3 linked regions of the Homo sapiens genome follow. The protein of the gene in region 3 interacts with the protein of the main gene of each other region in a biochemical or structural test. Each region holds a gene or a part of one and is shown on either strand. Other genes may lie near its edges.

Region 1 (7,020 bases), on a different chromosome or scaffold from region 3:
CAAGCTCACAGTGGCAAATACATGTCTTCCAAAGTTCTATTTTCATTTGAAAGCTTAAATTTTATCATTAGTAACAAATATTGTCAGTTGTTTTCCCTGTAGTGACAGGCACACTTTGTTTATTTTCATGAAAATGTATGCCAAATACCCTAGTCTGTATAACCATACTTTGCCAGCCATTTTTTCAAGTAAAAATGGTATTCCATTTAAAAAGCTCACAACTCAACTGCACAAGTTCTTTTCCTTGAGTTAACCATCAGATTTGATATTCAATAAAAGTGTTTTACAGGTACTTTTCATTTCATCATACAAAATATATTTTTAAATGTACTCAAGGATTGAGATACAATAAAATTAGTAAGTTTTATTGCTTCATCAAGGACATAAAGTTTAACTGGCATTTTTTTTTTTAATTCCAAGTGCACAGTGATGAAGAACACAACTACTAGTACAATTTAGTACCAATGCCTTAATTTGTGCCAAGGTGCTGGCAGTTTTACCCACCACTGATTTTGCAAATGTCAGCACGTAAATAATGCCTATTATTAGGAAAATCATTTTGACCTGGAGAACCCTCAGAAAAACTTCGGGGAACCACCAGAGGCCTGAGAAATAGACTTTGAAAACCTCTGTAAGAACTGATGCATTACTTGTATAATTTTTAAAAAGATAATTTTTAGTAAACATTCCGCTATAACAGAAATATTTAAATAAATATACACACATATGTGATAATATATTAAAATCACCAATAACCTGGTACCTCATACACAGCAGATACCCAAAAATATAATAAATAACAGAATGTGATAAATAATTCTTTAATAAATAACAATTACTGAGAATCTACTATAAGCCAGTTTCTGAGCCAGTTCTGTGCCTCTTCAGTCCCCTTCTTGGGTAACTTACAGAAGCCCATAGACCAGAATGATGATTTTAACATATGAGAAAAAATATTTACTCTGAAATCTTTCCAATCTTTAAGATTAGACTTGCATGACTGCAAGAAAAAGTCTTAAAATTCACCATAAAGCACAAGATAGCATGTTAAGTTCTATTTTAAGCACTATGCCATGAGCTTTTTTAAAAACAGGCTTGCTCACATTCAGAAACCCAAATACAAAATGAATTGCTTTGGCTGAGCACTGCCAGAACTGCATAAAGACCCTGCATTCCATTTCTCCTCAAGCTATACAACCCTTACCTGTGATGTTTTCATTCCTATTGTTAAGTGAAACTCCAGCATTAATACTACAGAGGTTACATTAAATGTGGCAATTATTTTTTTAAAAAAACCAGTAGTGTATAGCAAAACCATCAAAACAAGTTGTTAAGAACTTTTAACCATATACACTGATAAATTCAAGAGGTAAATCTCTATAAACATACATAGGAAATATTACACACTGTTAAAAAGAATGAGACCATCTCATTGTCTGGACATGTCATGGAAAGATCTTCACTATCTATTGTAAAAAAAAGCAAACTGTAGGATGCTACATATGGTATGGTCTCACAGTTTTAGAAAAGATATTTATGTACATGTACATTCACTTAAGTTCCTTCTATGTGCCTAGTTTTGTTCTCATCTAGACATACACACACACAATAAATTAAAAATATTATACAGACATACACATTTAAATGCCCATGCAGAGAAAAAAATGAATACAAGACCAGACACAAAAAGTGACATATTTTTATTCCATTTATATTAAATGCCCAAAATAGGCAAGTCTACAGAGACTCAAAATAGATTATCAGTCGCCTAGGGCTAAGAGTGAGGTAAGGTTTGGGAAGGGGATGATGCTAAAAGGATGTAGGGTTGCTTTTCGAGGTGAAAAAATATTCTAGAACTGATTGTGGTTAATGGTTACACAACTTTGTGAATATACCAAAAACTACCTGACTGTGCACTTTAACGAGGTGAACTGTAATGGGATATGTTAATTTTATCTCAATAAAGCTGTCACCTCCCCCTGCCCACCCAAATAAGAATACACAGATATACACCAAAATGATTCCCTCTAAGAATGAAGATGATGAGGTCTTTCCATTTTTACCCTATTTACTGTTAGATCATTACAATGAGAAGTGTAGTCACTTATTATCTCTATAACTTAAAATAATGTAAAAGGTAAATCTAAAACAGCCCTTGATAAATTATTCTGGATTTAATGTTATTCAAGTTCATCTAAGCAGCAGCAAGAAAAAAGAGCGAAGATATGACCCTAAAAATATTTTCAATTTAGATTGTCTTATAGACAAGAGTATCAGGCCCCAGTCTCTGACAGAAACAAATCTTAAACATAATTTGTTCATCTGACACATGTATATTAAAAACACCTATTGTGTCCACAGGGTAGGGATGGGAGAATGGGGGGTGTACAAACAGAACACCAGCCAACAAAAAGACGCAAACTAACAGCTCTGGCTTTAAGTTAAGGGCTTTTGCTATACAGCTGAAGAGACAAAACACACACACAAAGTGGAATGGGGCCAGACAATAGAAAATCTTGAATACTAGACTGAGAACTAAGTCTTTATCCAGTTTTCGATAGAAAGCCATTCAAAGTTTTTATAGATAGGAGTGACAGAATGAAAGGAGTGTTTTGGTGAAATTAACCCGGCAACCAAAGCGGGTAAACTGAAAGCAGTGAATAGCAAAAAAGGTAAAAAAGAGATTAAGTTTTCAAAAATAGGAACGTTTACAACAGTCCTATGAGAGTTACTGATATCTCCATCATTAGTTAATATTCAAAGGATTTATGTTTGTTTTGTTTGCTTGATCTAAAGAAAAGCTGAAAAATAAAAAGGTGGTTTCTTCATTTTGACGAATTTTAGAAGTTCATAGCTAAGAATGAAGACTTACCAGAAAACTCTGAAGGAAGGGTTCTAGGGAATTTTCTTTTCATGTGACACTACTGAAACCAAGAGTAGAGGGAATCAAAAGTAACAGGAGTTGCACAATTTTTAACATGGAAGGGGAAATATAGTCATAAACATCTAGCAAAAAGTGCAGTGGCAATTAATACTACTTCTGAAATTGATGGTTAAAGACAACTAAGTACTTTAAAATTGTCTCTACTGCCTATTTCAAAGAAATCCTAATGATAAAACGTTACATAAATACAGATTTAGGTGAAGACCAAAGTCGAACGAATCAAATTTAGAGTACGATCAATTTCAAGTTCCTTCTACATGCACTACTTTTCAGATGTTGCACAAATAGCATTCTTAATTCACATATGCATTTATTAATTGGTTTAACTCATAAAGGTTTTTTCTAAAAATAAAAATGCTTTCATTGCCTATGTTATCTTTCTAAAACCAGATCCTGGGCCAGGCACGGTGGCTCACGCCTACAATCCCAGAACTTTGGGAGGCCAAGGCGGGCAGATTACGAGGTCAAGAGATAGAGACCAACCTGGCCAACATGGTGAAACCCTGTCTCTACTAAAAATACAAAAATTAGCTGGGCGCAGTGGCGCATGCCTGTAATCCCAGCTACTCGGGAGGCTGAGGCAGGAGAATTGCCTGAACCCCGGAGGCAGAGATTGTGGATCCTTGAAACTATGTTACCTCCCAATTTAAATGGCAACACTTTGTTTTGAGATTAAAAATATGGTAAAGTCTTATTTCCATTTTCTCTATATTAATGTTCAGTATAGTGTTTGTTTTTTGGGGGATTTTTTGTTTGTTTGTTTTTGAGACGGAGTCTCACTCTGTCGCCCAGCCTGGAGTACAGTGGCACGGTCTCAGCTCTCTGTAACCTCCGCCTCCCAGGTTCAAGCAATTCTCCTGCCTCAGCCTCCTGAGTAGCTGAGATTACAGGTGCGCACCACCACGCCCGGCTAATTTTTGTATTTTTAGTAGAGATAGGGTTTCACCATGTTGGTCAGGCTGGTCTCGAACTCCTGACCTCGTGATCTGTCCACCTTGGCTCCCAAAGTGCTGGGATTACCACGTCTGGCAATGTTCAATATAGTTTTAAAATGCCAGTTAAAAACTGATAAGCATCAGCTGGGCGTGGTGGCTCACACCTGTAATCCCAGCAAAACAAAAAAAACTGATAAGCATCTAAATAAGGTACAAAAACTTGCAATATGTGGTCACTGTGATATAATTTCCAAAATCAAACATACTTGCCTACTTGAAATTCTACTATTCATAGAATAGTATGAATAGATTATAAAATACTACTTCATAATCGATTTCATACTTTATCAAACATTCTGATGCTGAAGTAATGTTTGCTTACATTTTGTAAAACCTGTATCTGCCATCATTTAATAATCTTATCTCACATATTACAGAAACATAAACAATAAAGGTATGACAATGAACAAACCAAGAATGACTAATTTATTTCACTGACAACATTTTAGCTAATTTTGTAGAGTGGGTGCAGTGGCACAGTACCTCACACCTGTAAAAACCGAGCACAGAGGCACAGTGTCTCACACCTGTAATCCCAACACTTTGGGAAACCGAGGCAGCACTGTTTGAGGCCAGGAATTTGAGACCAGCCTGGGCAACACAGTGAGACCCCTGACTCTACAAAAATAAAATAAACATTTGTATTGCTTTCTTTTTTTTTTTTTTTTTTTTTGTTTGAGACGGAATCTCACACTGTAGCCCAGGCTGGAGTCCGGTGGCGCAATCTCGCTGCAACCTCTGCCTCCCAGGTTCAAGCGATTCTCCTGCCTCAGCCTCCTGAGTAGCTGAGATTACAGGCGCCCACCACCACGCCCAGCTAATTTTTTGTATTTTTAGTAGAGACGGGGTTTCACTATCTTGGTCAGGCTGGTCTTCAACTCCTGACCTCGTGATCCGCCCACCTCAGCCTCCCAAGGTGCTGGTATTACAGGTGTGAGCCATGGCATCCGGTCCTGCATTGCTTTCTAAAGCACAAAAAAGATCTGTCATATCAATATATTTAGTTAAAATAAAACATCTGCAAACTTTGGTACATGTCTGCAAACACACTGCAAAAAAAGGAGAATAATCTGGGCCTGGCGCGGTGGTGGCTCACGCCTGTAATCTCAGCACTTTGGGAGGCCGAGACGGGCAAATCACAAGGTCAGGAGATCGAGACCATCCTGACCAACACGGTGAAACGCCGTCTCTACTAAAAACGTACAAAAAAATTAGCGGGGCGTAGTGGCGGGCACCTGTAGTCCCAGCTACACCGAAGGCTGAGGCAGGAGAATGGTGTTAACCCGGGAGGCGGAGCTTGCAGTGCGCCGAGATCGCGCCACTGCACTACTGCCTGGGCAACAGAGGAAGACTCCGTCTCAAAAAAAAAAAAAAAAAAAAAAGTAGAATAATCTGACAGGGACTAGTTTAATAAAACACAATGTAAGGTTTCAAATGATCATATAGACCTGTATTTACTAACCTGGATAGACATGAAAATAGCAGATTATAAATAAAAAACAGTGTTGTATCTTTTTATGATGAATATACATATACATATGCTCACAGAGAGAAAGTCTTAAGTGGATAAATACCCAGATGTTAACCATGATATCTCTGAGTGTTGGGATTACAGGTACTGTTTATTTTTCTGCTTACTTCTCAGATTCTCTGAAATTTTCTCAAGCAAAATGATACTTACAAAAATTAATGTGTATGATTCCAACTAACAAACTCCAAACTTTTTGCAAGGAAGCTTGCAAAATGCCCTAGAATATCCAAAAATACCCTAGCATAGAGCTTTTCCAAAAGGGAAAGTATCAGCAACAACATAAGTAGAAATCTGTGAACTGGGCACCCTAGAGGACTCCAGGTCTGCTGTAGGACCTTTAAGGAGGACTACACAAGACCTAGGCTCAAGTCCCTGCCACTTTTATTTGTATGACCTTGCAATAGTCACGTACCCTTTCTGGGCTCACTTTCTCTATCTATAAAAAGGATTTAGTTATTACTTGCCTTTCCTACCTCAAAGAACTGTTGGAAAGATCAAAAGAGATAATGCAATATATTATGAACTGCAAAGTACTATATAAGTAAGATATTATTATTCAAACATTAAAAAAGCAAGATGCTTCATGCCAGAGTCAAACACTTCAGAAAACACCACAATCAATTCTATGAAGTAATGAATCCGTTTTTGGTTGTTGTTTTGAAAGGCTACATCTCATCATAAACACCCAGTTTTTCTGAGACTTGGATACTTTTTCCCAGTTCCCGCTACAACCATTGGCCATTTTATTTTCTTATCCCTGGTTACCAGCAAAAAAGGGTACAAATTACACTAAACTCAAAAGCCTCAGCAAGAACCCTGGAGCAGCATGCTGATGGAGTTCACCAGGAGACACCCAAGGTTAATCAGCTATGGACTCGCCACTAAGCACTACCGCAATCAACAGGGATTACAAGAAACTCTTTGAAGAAAAAGACAATGGGATCGCCCAGGAGAAAACGGTGGATGAAAAGAAGGAGGTATTTCAAAACAATCATATGAAATACTTAGAAACTATACGTAGTATTTTATAAACTATACTGTAGAGTTTTTAAAATACTGTTGATAAAAATAATGACATAAAACAAAAGCCATCTAAATGTGGCACTTGACAAAAGCAAGTTATAGAGATTCAAATCAAATCCATGAATAAACTATCAGATGTACTTGACTCTATCTGAAATAAAAGCAGACAAATTACAGCGTAAGGATCAAAATTAAGTAGCTATTTCTTGAAAATAAAGAGGCAGAAAATAACAATAGAATTCACTGACACACTCATAGTAACTTTTATAATTATGGTTTCTCTTCCCATTTAATTTCATTATTTACTCCACTAAAATGCTGATGGACTTCTTCTCTCCCACTCTTCTTCCTGTAAATTAAAATGGCACTATAACTTGGTTTGAGTTTTACTCCAAAAAAACACATATTTTTTTTTAAATTACTTTAAGAGGAGTTTCATGAAGCTGTCAGCTTATTAACTACCAAGATCATCTGGCCATCACACCCTCCTGCTTCTAAGTTCCTAAAGATGACAAAATACCCTCCAC
Region 2 (7,484 bases), on a different chromosome or scaffold from region 3:
CAGGAGAAAATAATTTATGCAGCAATTAGCTTTATTTTCAGGGCTCTTTTTCTTTTCTTTTTTTTTTGTTGAGACGGAGTCTCGCTCTTTTGCCCAGGCCGGAGTGCAGTGGCGCTATCTTGGCTCAGTGCAAGCTCTGCCTCCTGGGTTCATACCATTTTCCTGCCTCAGCCTCCCGAGTAGCTGGGACTACAGGCACCCGCCACCATGCCCAGCTAATTTTTTGTATTTTTAGTAGACACGGGGTTTCACCGTGTTAGCCAGGATGGTCTCGATCTCCTGACCTCATGATCCGCCCGCCTCTGCCTCCCAAAGTGCTGGGATTACACGCGTGAGCCACCGCGCCTGGCCAACAAAGTGATCATTTTACAAGAGTTATGGCATAGTCACAGGTAAGAACCTGGGTCACTGGGTCACTCCCTAACCAATTACGAATTACTATATGCCATGGACCTTCAGGATTACTTTCTTTTTTGTTTTGTTTTTGTTTTTTTTTTTGAGACAGAGTCTCGCTCTGTCACCCAGACCGGGGTGCAGTGGCGCGATCTCAGCTCACTGCAACCTCTGCCTCCCGGATTCAAGCAATTCTCCTGCCTCAGCCTCCCGAGTAGCTGGGATTACAGGCATGTGCCACCACGCCTGGCTAATTTTTTTGTATTTTTAGTAGAGACCGGGTTTCACCATATTGGCCAGGCTGGTCTCGAACTCCTGACCTTGTGATCCACCCACCTTGACCTCCCAAAGTCCTGGGATTACAGGCGTGAGCCACCGCGCCCAGCCCAGGATTACTTTCTTTCTTTCTTTTGAGACAGAGTTTTGCTCTTGTTGCCCAGGCTGGAGTGCAATGGCACAATCTCGGATCACTGCAACCTCCACCTCTCAGGTTCAAGCGATTCTCCTGCCTCAGCCTCCCAAGTAGCTGGGATTACAGGCATGCGGCACCATGCCTAAAATTTTGTATTTTTAGTAGAGATGGGGTTTCTCCACTTTGGTCAGGATGGTCTCGAACTCCCGACCTCAGGTGATCCGCCCGCCTCGGCCTCCCAAAGTGCTGGTATTACAGGCATGAGCCACCGTGCCTGGCCTCTATTTTTCTTTCTATAATCCATGTACATTTTCCTTTAATAATATAAGGCAACTAAACAGCACTTTATTTTCAGAGGCTTATCTAAAAGATACTTGACACAGCCCTTTGCAGCTGGGTCATTCTCTGAATTCTAAATGTCGTTTCCTGCACAAAGTGGTTATTTGATCTTGTAACTGGCATTTTCCCCGGAGATTAGGAAGTGGCACACCAAAGTGCAAAAAACTTTGGAATCAGAACTTTAATTTTTAATCTTTATTTTATTTATTTATTTATTTTTGTGACAGAGTCTCGCTCTGTTGCCCAGGCTAGAGTGCAATGGCAAGATCTCCACTCACTACAAACTCCACCTCCCGGGTTCAAGTGATTCTCCGCCTTCAGCCTCCTGGGTAGCTGGGATCACAGGCGCACACCACCACACTCGGCTAATTTTTGTATTTTGAGTAGAGATGGGGTTTCACCATGTTGGCCAGGCTGGTCTCTAACTCCTGACCTCAGGTGATCCTCCCGTCCATGCCTCCCAAAGTGCTGGGATTACAGGTATGAGTCACTGTGCCCGGCCTAATTTTTATATTTTTTTGTAGAGACGGGGTCTGGCTGTGTTTGACAGCCTCAAACTCCTGGCCTCAAGTGATCCTCTCAAAGTGTTGGGATTACAGACATGAGCCACAGTGCCTGGCCTATTGAAAGCTTTTCCATCATAATAGGTCCTTCCCCCCAATGCTTGCAGCAAGTCAATAGTAGGAGACCCCAGGTTGCAGCAGAGAAAGAGGTTTAATCATAGGGGCCACTGAAAACCAAGAGAGGAGATGGAAGGAACCACGAATCCACTTCCCCAGGGAGTTCGGGGCTTTTTAAGGGTTTTGGAGTGGGTTGAAGTGTGGAGGTCATTGGTTGGTTGAAGTGTGCAGGGTGAAGTAATGAAACAGGGAGTTGAAGAAACTCTATTCTCCTGTCGATTTGGTTCCTCTGCGGGGTCTTCACACTGGTTGGTATCAGCTGTTTTGCTGGAATTCAGGATCTGAAAAATATCTTAAGCTTTTTTTTTTTTTTTTTTTTTTTTGAGACAAGGTCTGTTGTCCAGGCTGGAGTGCAGTGGTGCCATCATAGCTCATTGCAGCCTCTAACGCCTGGGCTCAAAGGATCCTTCCACCTTAGCCTCCCAAGTAGCTGGGATTACAGGCACGCACCACCACACCCAGCTAATTAAAAAATTTTTTTTTTTGTAGAGACAGGGGTCTTGTCATGTTGCCCAGGCTGGTCATGAACTCCTGACTTCAAGTGATTTTCCTATCTCAGTCTCCTAAAGCGCATGGATTACAGGCATGAGCCACCATGCCGGGCGCTAAGCAATTCTTATTATTTATTTATTTATTTATTTATTTATTTTTTTCTGAGACGGAGTCTTGCTCTGTTGCCCAGGCTGGAGTGCAGTGGCGCGAACTCGGCTCACTGCAAGCTCCATCTCCCAGGTTCATGCTATTCTCTTGCCTCAGCCTCCTCAGTAGCTGGGACTACATGCGCCTGCCACCACGCCCGGCTAATTTTTTGTAGTTTTAGTAGAGACAAGGTTTCACCATGTTAGCCAGGCTGATCTCGAACTCCTGACCTCGTGATCCGCCCACCTCTGCCTCCCAAAATGCTGGGATTACAGGCGTGAGCCACCACCTCCGGCCTAAGCAATTCTTAAATAAAAATCTATGATTCCGCCAGGCATGGTGGCTCACACCTGTAATCCGTGCACTTTGGGAGGCCGAGGCGGGTGGATCACAAGTTCAGGAGTTCGAGACCAGCCTGGCCAACATGGTGCAATCCCTGTCTCTACTAAAAATACAAAAGTTAGGTGGGCATGGTGGCTTTTTTTTTTTTTTTTTTAGACGGGAGTCTCTGTCATCCATGCTGGAGTGCAGTGGCAGGATCTTGGCTCACTGCAACCTCTGCCTCCCAGGTTCAAGCGATTCTCCGGCCTCAGCCTCCCAATTGGCTGAGACTACAGGCGTGTGCCACCACGCCCGGCTAATTTTTTAGTATTAGTAGAGATGGGGGTTTCACCATCTTGGCCGGGCTGGTCTCGAACTCCTGACTTCGTGATCTGCCCTCCCTGGCGTCCCAAAGTGCTGGGATTACAGGCATGAGCCACTGTGCCCTGCCAAAAAGCCTATGATTCTAACATCAGAAATCCTTCCACCTCAGCCTCCCACGTAGCTGGGACTATAGACTCAGTACCACCACACCAAGCTAATTTTTGTATTTTTAATAGAGATAGCGTTTCCCTATATTGACCACCTGGGGCCATCCCTGGTTTTTTTTTTTTTTCCCTTCCTTCCTTCCTTTCCCTCTCTCTTTCCCTCCCTCCTTCCTTCCTTTCTTTCTTTCTTTCTTTTTTTTTTTTTTTTACAGAGTCTTGCTCTGTTACCCAGGTTGGAGTGCAGAGGCATGATCTTGGCTTACTACAACCTCCGCCTCCCGGATTCAAGCAATTATCCTACCTCAGCCTTCCAAGTAGCTGGGACTACAAGTGTGAGCCACCATGCCCTGCTAATTTTTTTATTTTTACTAAAGACGGGATTTCACCACATTAGCCAGGCTGGTCTCCAACTCCTGATTTAAAGTAATCTGCCTGCCTTGGCCTTCCGAAGTGCTGAGATTACAGGTGCGAGTCACCGTGCCTGGCCTATTCCTGTTTTCTTAACGCTCCTCTCTCCCACTGGGCCGTGACTGCCTCTAAGGCAGAGATGTGTTCATTTTTATTATTATTGTATGTCCAGGGCTGGGCACAAAGTGCAACACATAGTAGGGACATGAAAGGCTGGGCACAGTGGCTCATGGTTGTAATCCCAGCACTTTGGGAGGCAGAGGCGGGAGGATGGCTTGAGGCCAGGAGTTGGAGACCAGCCTAGGCAACAGAGGGACCCCATCTCTATGAAAAAAAAAAAAAAAAATTGACAGTTCAATGTCACCTCTGATAAGCCTTCCCTGACCACCCCTGTTACTCTGTAGCCCCATGTCCTGCTTTATTTTTCTCCAAAGCATTTATCATCGCTGGGTTTATATTTATTTCTCTTCGGGCTTTTCTCACTGGATCGTAAACTCCATGAGGACAGGGCTTTGTCGATTTCACTCAATACCGTTATTTTACAACATCCCTATTGCTGGGATCTCAGTATGCACTCCTTAAATATTTGCAGAATTTAAGTGCCACATAAGTGACCACGTGGGCAACGCCCTCGGGGCCTTAAGCCGCGCCATTTTTGGGGCTAGGATTGGTTGGACCCTCCGTCACGTGACATGCAGTCGCCGGATCGCCTTTGAGTCTCGTGAGGTACTTTTGGTCCCAGGCTCCGCGGACGAGGTACTGCGCAGGCGTGGGAGGGTCTGCGCATGCGCAGAAGCACTCCGGGCGTGCTGCCGGCGGCGGTAGGTGGCGCGCGGGTCCGGCGGGCGGTTGGCTTGAGCGGGACCGGAGCTGAGGCAGGAAGAGCCGGCGCCATGGTGGAGAAGGAGGAGGCTGGCGGCGGCATTAGCGAGGAGGAGGCGGCACAGTATGACCGGCAGATCCGCCTGTGGGGACTGGAGGCCCAGAAACGGTCAGGGCCGGCGCGGCTTGAGGCCGCTAGGGTCTGGAGGGGGCGTCTATTCTGAGGCGTTTGCGGCCCGGAAGGAGCGGGAAGGTGTGATTTGAAGGGAGGAGGCGGGAATTCTGTGCTCTGGGATCGTCTCTCTCTTGGGGGGACTGGAGGAGTTGATTGGGGATGTTTCTGGAAGGTCTGGGAAGTGGTTGGGAGGGCCGTTCCGAAGGATGGGAGCTCTGAAGGGGGCGTTGGGGAGTCCTGAGAGAGCGGGAGAATTCAAACTCAGGAAATCCGAGGCCCGAAAGCGGTGATTGTGGGGTTTGATCGCGGTTAGGGGATAAGAGGGGCTGGGGATACGTGGAAAGGGTGAGGTGAGGGACGCAGTTCATTCATTCGAGGGTATGGGACCTGGTTCCGTGCTGCACACAGGGGAGACTGGACTGGCCAACCGGACAGACGGGAGCTTACACTCTTGTGGGAGCTCACGGGCGGGCCAGTCTGAGAGAATGCGGGTTTTGAGGAGTTTTGGAGCAAGTTATCTCAAATGGGAATCTTGAGAGGCTCGGAGAGGCTGGAGGGGGACGGCCGTAGGCTCCCGAAAAGGTTGCTTGTGTTTGGTATGGGGCTGTGTCTTGATAGGACAGGAGACGTAGTTTGGGCATTGTGGAGTAGCTTAGGGAATTCTTTTTTTTTTTTTTTTTTTTTTTGAGATAGTCTCTCTCTGTCGCCCAGGCTGGAGGGCAGTGGCGCGATCTCGGCTCACTGCAACCTCTGCCTCCCGGATTCAAGCGATTCTCCTAACTCAGCCTCCCGAGTAGCTGGGATTATAGGGGCCCGCCAGCACGCCCGGCTAATTTTTGTATTTTTAGTAGACACGGGGTTTCGCCATATTGACGAGACTGGTCTCGATCTCCTTACCTCAAGTGATCCACCCGCCTCGGCCTCCTGAAGTGCTGGGATTACAGGAGTGAGCCACCGCGCCAGGACGTCTTTTGTTTTGTGCAGTTGGGTGACCTCGGTTCACTGCAGCCTCTGGCCTCCCGGGTTCAAGACTTCCTCTCACCTCAGTCTTCTGAGTAGCTGGGATTACAGGCTCGCGCCACCATGCCTGGCTAATTTTTGTATTTTTAGTAGACATGGGTTTTCACCATGTTGGCCAGGCTGGTCTCAAACTCCGGACCTCAAGTGATCTGCCCGCCACAGCCTCCCAAAGTGGTTGGATTACAGACGTGAGCCACTGTGCCCAGCTTGTTTTTTTTTTTTTTCTTTCTCTGTGGCCCAGTGGAGTGCAGTGGTGGGATCACAGCTCACTGTAGCCTCAACCTCCAAGGCTCAAGGGATATTCCCTCTTCAGCCTCCCAAGTAGCTGGGACTACAGGCGTGCCCCACCACATCATCCGACTAATTTTTGTTTTTTTTTTTTTTTGTAGGATGGGGTTTTGCCATGTTGCCCAGACTGGTCTTGAACTCCCAAGCTCAAGCGATCCTCGGCCTCAAGAGATCTCCCCCCATCTCAGACTCCTAAAATGCTGGGATTACAGGCATGAGCTACCATGCCTGGCCTCATTGATCAATATTTTTACTTAGCCTGGACGCAGTGACTCACACCTGTAATCCCAGCACTTTGGGAAGCTGAGTTGGGGGGAGGGGACCTCTTGAGCCCAGGAGTTTGAGACTAGCCTGGGTAATGTTGCCAAACCCAGTCTCTACAAAAAAATACAAAAATTAGCCAGGCATGGTGACATAAGTTTATAGTCCCAGCTTGTCAGGAGACTGAGGTGGGAGCATCACCTGAGCCCCTGGGAGGTGGAGGTTGCAGTGAGCCATGATCACACCACTACACCCCAGCCTGGGTGACAGAGTGAGGCCCCGTCTCAAAAAAAAAAAAAAAATCCACAAGCGTGTGTATATGTGTCAGTTATTAAAGGATGGTGAAGTGAGAGGGTTGTTTTGATAGGTTGGCCAGGGAAGGGCTCTGAAGAGGTAACATTGAGCCTCAGACTTATATGGGAAAGAGCCCTGTGGTCATCTGGGAGAACTTTCCTAGCTAAGAGAACAGCAAGTGCAAATTCCCAGAGGCCCAGGCATGATTGTCAAATTAGAGAAATAAGGTGGCAGGAACCAAATGATTTGAGGAGTAGCTTTTATTCTAAGTGTGTGGGAAAACCTGTTGGAGTGTTTTGAGTGTGGGAGTAACATGATCTGTTTTTTGTTTGTTTTTTGAGACGGAGTCTTGCTCTGTGGCCCAGGCTGGAGTGCAATGGCACGATCTCGGCTCACTGCCATTGCAGTGAATCCGCCTCCCAGGTTCAAGCGATTCTCCTGCCTCACCTTCCTGAGTAGCTGGGACTATCGGCATGTGCCACAACACCCGGCTAATCTTGAGTATTTTTAGTAGAGACGGGGTTTCACCATGTTAGACAGGATAGTCTCGATCTCCTGACCTCGTGATCCGCCTGCCTTGGGCTCCCAAAGTGCTGTGATTACAGGCGTGAGCCACTGCGGCCTGGCCTGGTTTGTGTTTTAAAATGATCGCTCCAGAATAGGTTAAAGTGGTCAGAAATGGAAGTAAAGATTCTGGCTGGACTGTTGCAGTAATCCAGTTGAGATAAAAATATTGGTGGCTTGAAACTCAAGAGAAGGGGTCAAATAAATATATTCTGGATATATTTTGAAGGTAGAAGAGGGAACAGAATTTGGGGCAGAAGTCCAGGATGACACCACTGTTTTTGGCTTGAGCACCTACCTGGAACGATGGAATTGCCATTTTGAAAGATATGGAGAGCTGTAGGTTTGGTGGGGTCGGGGAAGAGTCAGTTCTCTTTTAG
Region 3 (7,178 bases):
CTCCACCTGCGTCGGAGCCGCCGCAGCCTCACCTGGCACTCGTTAGGGAGACAAGGCCCAGTCCCCGGCAGACCCACGGACGAAGGAGCTCTGAGAGGCCCGCACTCAGGTTCTGGGTGGCACGATGACTTCCCCAGTCAGCAGAGCAGAAATCGGGGGTGGGGTTGGGATCAAAGAAGCCAAGGCAGGTCCAGTGTCGCCAGGGCACCAGGCTTCTGAAGCTGCTAGAGCCGCCTGCCCTGCAGGTGAATTTGGCTCCTTTTCACCAAACACAGATCCTCAGGGCAGCCTGAGAAAAAGCAGGCGAAGGAACCTGGGTCCTCCAGTCAGCAGGCGCTGGCGTCACAGCGAGAGGGTGACAGGGGCCAGCCGGGCACTGGCCTCCAGGTCCACGACTAAGTCCAAGACAGGCAGCCCGGGCTGGAGGCAGCCCCAGACCGGGCCCCACCGGGATGTCCTTCCCCACGCCCTCCTCACATGATGCAGAGGAGCCCGCAGGCCGCCCGCCCTCTGGACCGTTTGCCCTTCCCCGTGCCCTCCTCTAAGTGAGGGGGGGGGAGCCAGGGGCCAGACAGGGAGAAAGTGGGGGGCACAGCTATGGTCAGGCAGGGTTCGAGCCCAGAGCGGAGTGGAGCGCCCGCCAACCACGGTTTCAAGGCTGTCTCCGCACTGGGCTGGACTCCGAAACTCCACACGTTCCTCCACCCTCCACTCCCACGTGGAGCAGCCCAGCTGCGACTTGAGGACTCACAGCTCTCGCTTCCCCAGCCCCAGGATGGGCTTCCTGAGTGGCCGCAGCCTGTGCCCGGTGCGGTGCAAAGCAGCCTGGCGAGTGGCCATTTCAAGGAGGCACGACCTCCCAGGTGCCCGGGGTCTGAGCGAGGCCAGGCATCAGGCAAGTCTCTGAAGCCTCAGGCCAGTGCTCCAGACACTGAAGGACCATGGGCAAGGCTATCCTCACAGCCAGGCAAGGCCAGGCCACAGAGAGGCCAGACGGGCCTGGGACCCTGCCACAGGCAGCCCTCCTGCTGAGGACTGGACAGAGCCGCCTAGAGGCCCCCGTCCCAGCACCTAGCTATTGCTGTCTCAGGTGTGAGAAGTCGTGAGGGGTGGTCCTGCGAGACCTCCTGCCAAGACCTGGCTGCTGCTGCTGTGTCCCCTGCCCCAAAGCACTCAGCACCACGGGGTGGTCTCACAGGCACTGCACCGCCAGGGCAAGGAGCCACAGGTGCACACCCACCGTGTCCCAGACAGAAGCCAGGCCCCTCCCCCTGCACCCCCTCCTACTGGCCTTCTGGAGAAAGCGGCCAATCTGTTACAATGTAATCACAACACAGATCAAGCGTTCAAAATTCCGCTGAAAATCGAATTTGCCCTTCCAAATTCACAGATAGGCACTTAGTGAACGGCTAGTAGTTACTAAACGCTTCAGAGCAAGAAACTTTTATGATGCAAAGACAAAAACAACCCTCATCTATTAGAGCCAGGCAAGGCCCAGACACTGCAGAAACGGGGACAGGGCCGGGCACTCCAGGAGCGGCCCGAAAGTCTGCCTTCTGTCCTCCTGCTGGGCGCCCGCAACCGGCTGAGCTTTAGCTTCTCGGATCACCGCCTTGCTCTGCTGGTTGACAGCACCGACTTCAGAGCAACTTCCTGGCTGAGGGTGAGCAAAGCACTCACCTCCCACAACTCCACCGCACTGATCTCCACAACGGGTGGTCGCCACGACAGGCTGGCACAAGAAGCCTTTAAAGGCCCTCCTGCACCCAAATGCAAACTCTCCCAGGCTTGGGGAGGTATTCCCTTCTGCAAGACCCAAGCACCTGCAGTCGGGAGACGCTTACCTGGCCGCACCTGATCTGCCCCAGGCCCCGAGAATGTTTCTGAAGCAAGATCCCAAACCCTGAGACACCATACAAGCGCACACCAGCAATCACCCAGTGGCCTAGGGAACGGACCTCTCTGAATGAGCAATCAGGGCAAACTGAGGATCCGTCCCGTCTTCCGTTGCATAGGTTCTCTACCCAAAGGCAACGTTTCTTGAAGAGCAAGAAACACTTGGGGTAGGTCCTGTAAAAGGAAACAAACCGAACTCCCCAAAGACAGGCACTTTGCAAACAGAGAAACTAAGCGTAACTTCCAATTATACAAACAAAACCACTTCATTCTGCGATTCAAGCGTGACTACAGGCCACGATCACAAGCCCAACTAATCATTCCCTTACATTCCTCCTACGCACGTTAACTACCAGAACCAACTACTATTCAACCGATAAAAAGAGATGTCCAAAACAGAATAAAACTCCCCCTCCAGCGAGGCGCTCACGTTCAGGGCCCCAGCAAGCGCCAGCGGAGCATCTTCAGAGGCACAAGAAAACTTACACTTGTTTTGGTTTTAAGGCACCGAAAACAAGCCCGCTCGCCGGCCCCCACCCCCGCGAGCCAGCGATGTTGCAATCCAAGACTCTCCCCCCGCGGCCCATCCTATCCGTCCGCGGGGCGACCGTGACCCCGGAAGCCGCTCCCCGCGCAGGAGGAAGGCGCGGCCTCGCGGGGCCCCGGCTGCAGGTGGCTGCCCCGGCCCCGCGCCAGGCGCACCTCGGGGGCGAAGTGGGGGAGCCCCGGCCCCGAAGGCCTGCGGCGGCCCGGCCGCTCGGGCCGCAGCCCAGCGGCGCCAGCAGCGCGGACCGAGCCGGCGCCGAGCGCGGGGCCTCTCGGGCTCCCCGGAAAGCTCGGCCGCGGCGCGGGGCCCGGCTCGGCGGGGCGGGGCGCGGGGCAGTCGGGGGCCCGGGCCCAACAGGAGTAGAGGCCTCGGCCCGACCCCCGCCCCGCGGCCCCGGCCCGGCCCCCGCACGCGCTCACCTCGGGCGGCCGCAGCCCCGGCGAGCGTAGCGGACAGGTGGAGGACCGAGCGGGGCGGCGGCGGCGGCGCTTCCCTTTGTCTCGGGACTTCCCTCCGGAGCCCGCTCCGCGCGCAGCCAGAGCAGCTCCGAGGACCCTGGCGCGGGCGGGGCGCGCGGGGCGGGGCCTAACGCGGGGCTGCCCTCTGCACGCCTGCCTCGCGCGCCGCTCCTGCCGCCCGGCCCCGAGCGCCTCCCGCGCCGCCGAGCGCTCCCCGTTGCCCGCGCCCCGCCGCCGCGCGCCCGCGCCCCGGGTCCGCCCCAGGAGCCCGGCCGGGGGGCGACTTTCCAGTCAGGCGGCGCCCTGGACACCTACGCCCTTAAAGGAGCCGCGTCCCCGATGTGAGGGAGCGTCTGTAAACTCCCCTTCGGGCTGCCCGCGTCCACCCGAGGACACGCCGGCAAGCAGCGGGGGAAAAAGGAAGCCGAGATCTCCAAAGGCTCCCCGGATGCCTGGCGGTCACCTCTCCAGCCACAGGTCCCGGAGGTTTCCTTGGGGTCAGGTCCTGGGGCCGGGGGTCAAAGACCACTGAGGCCTAAGGATCCTCTGAAGCGTCGCAGGACGGTGACGCTCCCGCGAGTTCAGCGCCCTGTGAAACCCCTTGCAATTGGCCAGTTCGGGGCGGTAGGCGGGGACACCTTCTCATCCGCCCAATGAGCTGACCCCGTACAAAAGGCCGAATGCGAGCATGACCGACGGGAGGAGAAGTGTGGATGCTCCCTAAACCGGGGGCTGGCCCTGGGCCGGGGCGCGGGCGGGACGTGGGGGACCGCGAGCGGCGGGGGCGGGGCGAGCCCGTGGGGGAGGGGCGCTTCCGGTCCCCCCTCCCGCCCACGCAACAAGCAGGACCGGGTCGGGAGGCCCCCAGACCCGCGAGCGCGCGGGACAGTCCGTTCGCCAACGCGCGACCGTGCTGGCCCCCGGGCTCTCCCGGCCCCCCCGCCCGCATTTCGCCGACGGCGGGGCCGCAGCCAAGGTCACGGTGTCCGGGTGCTTGGGGACCGCGGGGAGTGACCACATTCATTCATTCCCTCCCTCACTCATTCATTCATTCCCTCCCCTACTCCGTCATTCCCTCCCTCACTCACTAATTCCCTCCCTCCCTCACTAATTCCCTCCCTCCCTCATTCATTCGATCCCTCCATCACTCAATCATTCCTTCCCTCTCTCACGCATTCCCTCCCTCACTTACTCATTCATTGCCACCCTCACTCACTCATTCCCTCCCTCACTTACTCATTCATTCCCACTCACTCATTCCCTCCCTCACTCACTCATTCCCTCCCTCACTCATTCCCTCCCTCACTCACTCATTCCCTCCCTCACTCATTCCCTCCCTCACTCATTCATTCCCTCCCTCACTCACTCATTCTCACTCTCACTCATTCCCGCCCTCATTCATTCATTCCCGCCCTCATTCATTCATTCCCACCCTCATTCATTCCTTCCCTCCCTCACTCATTCCCTCTCTCATTCATTCCCTCCCTCCCTCACTCACTCATTCCCTCCCTCACTGATTCCCTCCCTCACTGATTCATTCATTCCCTCCATCACTCATTCATTCCTTCCCTCACTCATTCCCTCCCTCACTCATTTCCTCTCTCATTCATTCATTCCCTCCCTCCCTCACTCATTCCCACTCTCACAAACTCATTCCCTCCCTCACTTACTCATTCCTCCCTCATTCATTCCCTCCCTCATTCGTTCATTCCCTCCCTCATTCATTCATTCCCTCCCTCCCTCATTCCCTCCCTCCCTCATTCATTCATTCCCTCCCTCATTCATTCATTCCCTCCCTCATTCATTCCCACCCTCCCTCATTCATTCCCTGCCTCCCTCACTCATTCCCTCCCTCACTCATTCATTCCCTCCCTCCCTCACTGATTCTCTCCCTTATTCATTCCATCCCTCACTCATTCCCTTCCTCCCTCATTCACTTCCTCCCTCACTCATTCATTCACTCCCTCCCTCATTCATTCATTCCCTCCCTCCCTCACTCATTCCCTCCCTTACTCATTTATTCCATCCCTCACTCATTGCCTCCCTCCCTCATTCCCTCCCTCTCTCCCTCATTCATTCATTCCCTCCCTCATTCATTCCCTCCCTCACTCATTCCCTCCCTCACTCATTCATTCCCTCCCTCACTCATTCCCTTCCTCCCTCATTCATTCATTCCCTCCCTCACTCATGCATTAATTCCCTCCCTCACTCACTCATTCCCTCCTTCACTCATTCACTCCCTCCCTCCCTCACTCATTCCCCCACCACCTCCCACAGGGTCCCCAGCGGGCATTTCCCTGTCAGGCACCTGCAGCAGGAGGGGCAGCCACACACCCTGGGTCTGCCTGCCTGGGAGGCGCAGCCGTGGGGATGTGGGTCCAGGGCAGCAGGGGCAGCCTCCCCCAGAATCCAGTCCCTGGAAGCCATGCACAGCCCTGTCCCACCAAGACCAGCGGGGGCCTGGCCTGGCTGCAACTCCCAGGCTCAGAGCCTCCGTGGCCTGTCTAGACACCTGCTGTCCTGGCCCCCAGCCTTGAGGTCCTGGGAATCTGCTTTTTTTTTTTCCTTTTTTTTGTGAGATGGAGTCTCACTGTGTTGCCCAGGCTAGAGTGCAGTGGCGCCATCTTGGCTTACTGCAACCTCCACCTCCTGAGTTCAAGCGATCCTCCTGCCTCAGCCTCCCGAGTAGCTGGGATTACAGGCGTGCACCACCACACCCGGCTAATTTTTGTATTTTTAATAGAGACGGGGTTTCACCATGTTGGCTAGGCTGGTCTCAAACTCCTGACTTCAAGTGATCCGCCCACCTCGGCCTCCCAAAGTGCTGGGATTACAGGTGTGGACCACCACGCCCAGCTGAAATCTGCATTCTTAACCAGCCCCCTGGGCAAGCCTGGCAGAGGGATATGGCCCTTTGGCTTCCTGACATGGGCTAAGGTTCCAACGCCATCTTTCTGGCGAAGATGCCAGCACAGGGCTGTGTGGGGAGGCGTCAGCCAGTAAAAGCCGTGGCTGAAGAAAAGCAAGACAGCCACGGGCCTCGGTGGATCCCGCTGCAGCCTCAGGCACAGAGAGGGCAGGGCTGGTGAGGTGGGGGGCTTGTCATGAGTGGGGCTTGGGGAGACTGACTGGATGTGGTGTGTGGCTGGGGAGGGCCTGGGCCTGAACCTGTGGGCCATGGGAGCCATAGAAGGTTGTGGAACAGGAGAAGTAAGACAAGGCCCTGGTTCCCTGTGTGTGTGTGGTGAGGGACTGAGGAGACATGGCTCAGGCATCTAGAGAATTCCTGTCCTGGTGGGAAGTAGTGCCAGGAGGGGCTGGGGTTTGGGGAGGCTGTGGCAGGTGAGGGTGAGGGACATGGAGCAGGTAGGGGTGAGGGTCATGGAGCAGGTGGGGGTGAGGGGCATGGAGCAGGTGGGGGAGGGAAGAGGCTCCCTCAGTTGTGCATCCTCAGCCCACAAGTGTCCTTTGAGCAGCCTGCACCTGGCACACGTTTTCAAGGAGAGGGGACTTGTTGGGTCCAGCTCCCTGGGTACAAAGGAGAAACTGAGGCTTGGAGAGGGTGGGGGGTTTGAATCAGTAACTATAAGATCCTGGGCAAGGCTTGTGGCTGACTGTGCCAGGCACGCGCCCACCTTTGCCCTGGTCCCCTTGGGAGGGGAGCAGGAAGTGTGATGCAGAGCTGCCTGCGGTAGGGCGGGACCTCCAGTGCCCTGGGTGCCCCCTCCGGGGCCTGCTGGGGCCAGGCTCTGCACAGGGGTTTGAGAGCAGAGGCCTCTTCACTGAGGGCCGATTCCCCCAGAGGAATAAGGGCCTCTGCAGTAGAGTGAAGGTGGACCCTTACCCCGGAGCACGCACAAAAACCAGCTCAAAAGTCAGCCTCGGGCCAGGCGCGGTGGCTCACGCTGGTAATCCCAGGACTTTGGGAGGCTGAGTAGGGCAGATCGCTTGAGCTCAGGAGTTTGAGACCAGCCTGCCCAACATGGTGAAACCCTGTCTCTACTAAAAATGCAAAAATTAGTTGGGTGTGGTGGTGCACGCCTGTAATTCCAGCTACTTCGAAGGCTGAGGCAGGAGAATCTCCTGAACACGGGAGGCAGAGGTTGCAGTGAGCCGAGATGGCGTCACTGCACTCCAGCTTGGGCAACAGAACGAGACTTCATTTAAAAATAAAAAGAAAAAAAAATTCACATATCTGAGAAGGAGTTATTATCCAGGATAATAGGCTGGGCGCGGTGGCTCACGCCTGTAATCCCAGCACTTTGGGAAGCTGAGGT

Evidence for each region.
Region 1: the proteins of UBE2I (region 3) and PIAS1 form a complex in vitro, tested with the Homo sapiens proteins (12 studies listed by BioGRID, with this or other methods).
Region 2: of the proteins of UBE2I (region 3) and SAE1, one has a biochemical effect on the other in vitro, tested with the Homo sapiens proteins (6 studies listed by BioGRID, with this or other methods).

What each region holds. Positions count from the first base shown.
Region 1 is NC_000015.10:68,057,302-68,064,321, reverse strand, and holds part of PIAS1 (E3 SUMO-protein ligase PIAS1), read right to left. Parts: intron 6,843-7,020; exon of another isoform or gene 6,793-6,842; coding exon of another isoform or gene 6,742-6,792; intron 1-6,741. UniProt on the Homo sapiens protein: Functions as an E3-type small ubiquitin-like modifier (SUMO) ligase, stabilizing the interaction between UBE2I and the substrate, and as a SUMO-tethering factor. Catalyzes sumoylation of various proteins, such as CEBPB, MRE11, MTA1, PTK2 and PML.
Region 2 is NC_000019.10:47,126,358-47,133,841, forward strand, and holds the start of SAE1 (SUMO-activating enzyme subunit 1), read left to right. Parts: upstream 1-4,477; 5' UTR 4,478-4,573; coding exon 4,574-4,671; exon of another isoform or gene 4,672-4,755; intron 4,756-7,484. UniProt on the Homo sapiens protein: The heterodimer acts as an E1 ligase for SUMO1, SUMO2, SUMO3, and probably SUMO4. It mediates ATP-dependent activation of SUMO proteins followed by formation of a thioester bond between a SUMO protein and a conserved active site cysteine residue on UBA2/SAE2.
Region 3 is NC_000016.10:1,305,458-1,312,635, reverse strand, and holds the start of UBE2I (SUMO-conjugating enzyme UBC9), read right to left. Parts: upstream 3,001-7,178; 5' UTR 2,863-3,000; intron 290-2,862; exon of another isoform or gene 33-289; intron 1-32. UniProt on the Homo sapiens protein: Accepts the ubiquitin-like proteins SUMO1, SUMO2, SUMO3, SUMO4 and SUMO1P1/SUMO5 from the UBLE1A-UBLE1B E1 complex and catalyzes their covalent attachment to other proteins with the help of an E3 ligase such as RANBP2, CBX4 and ZNF451.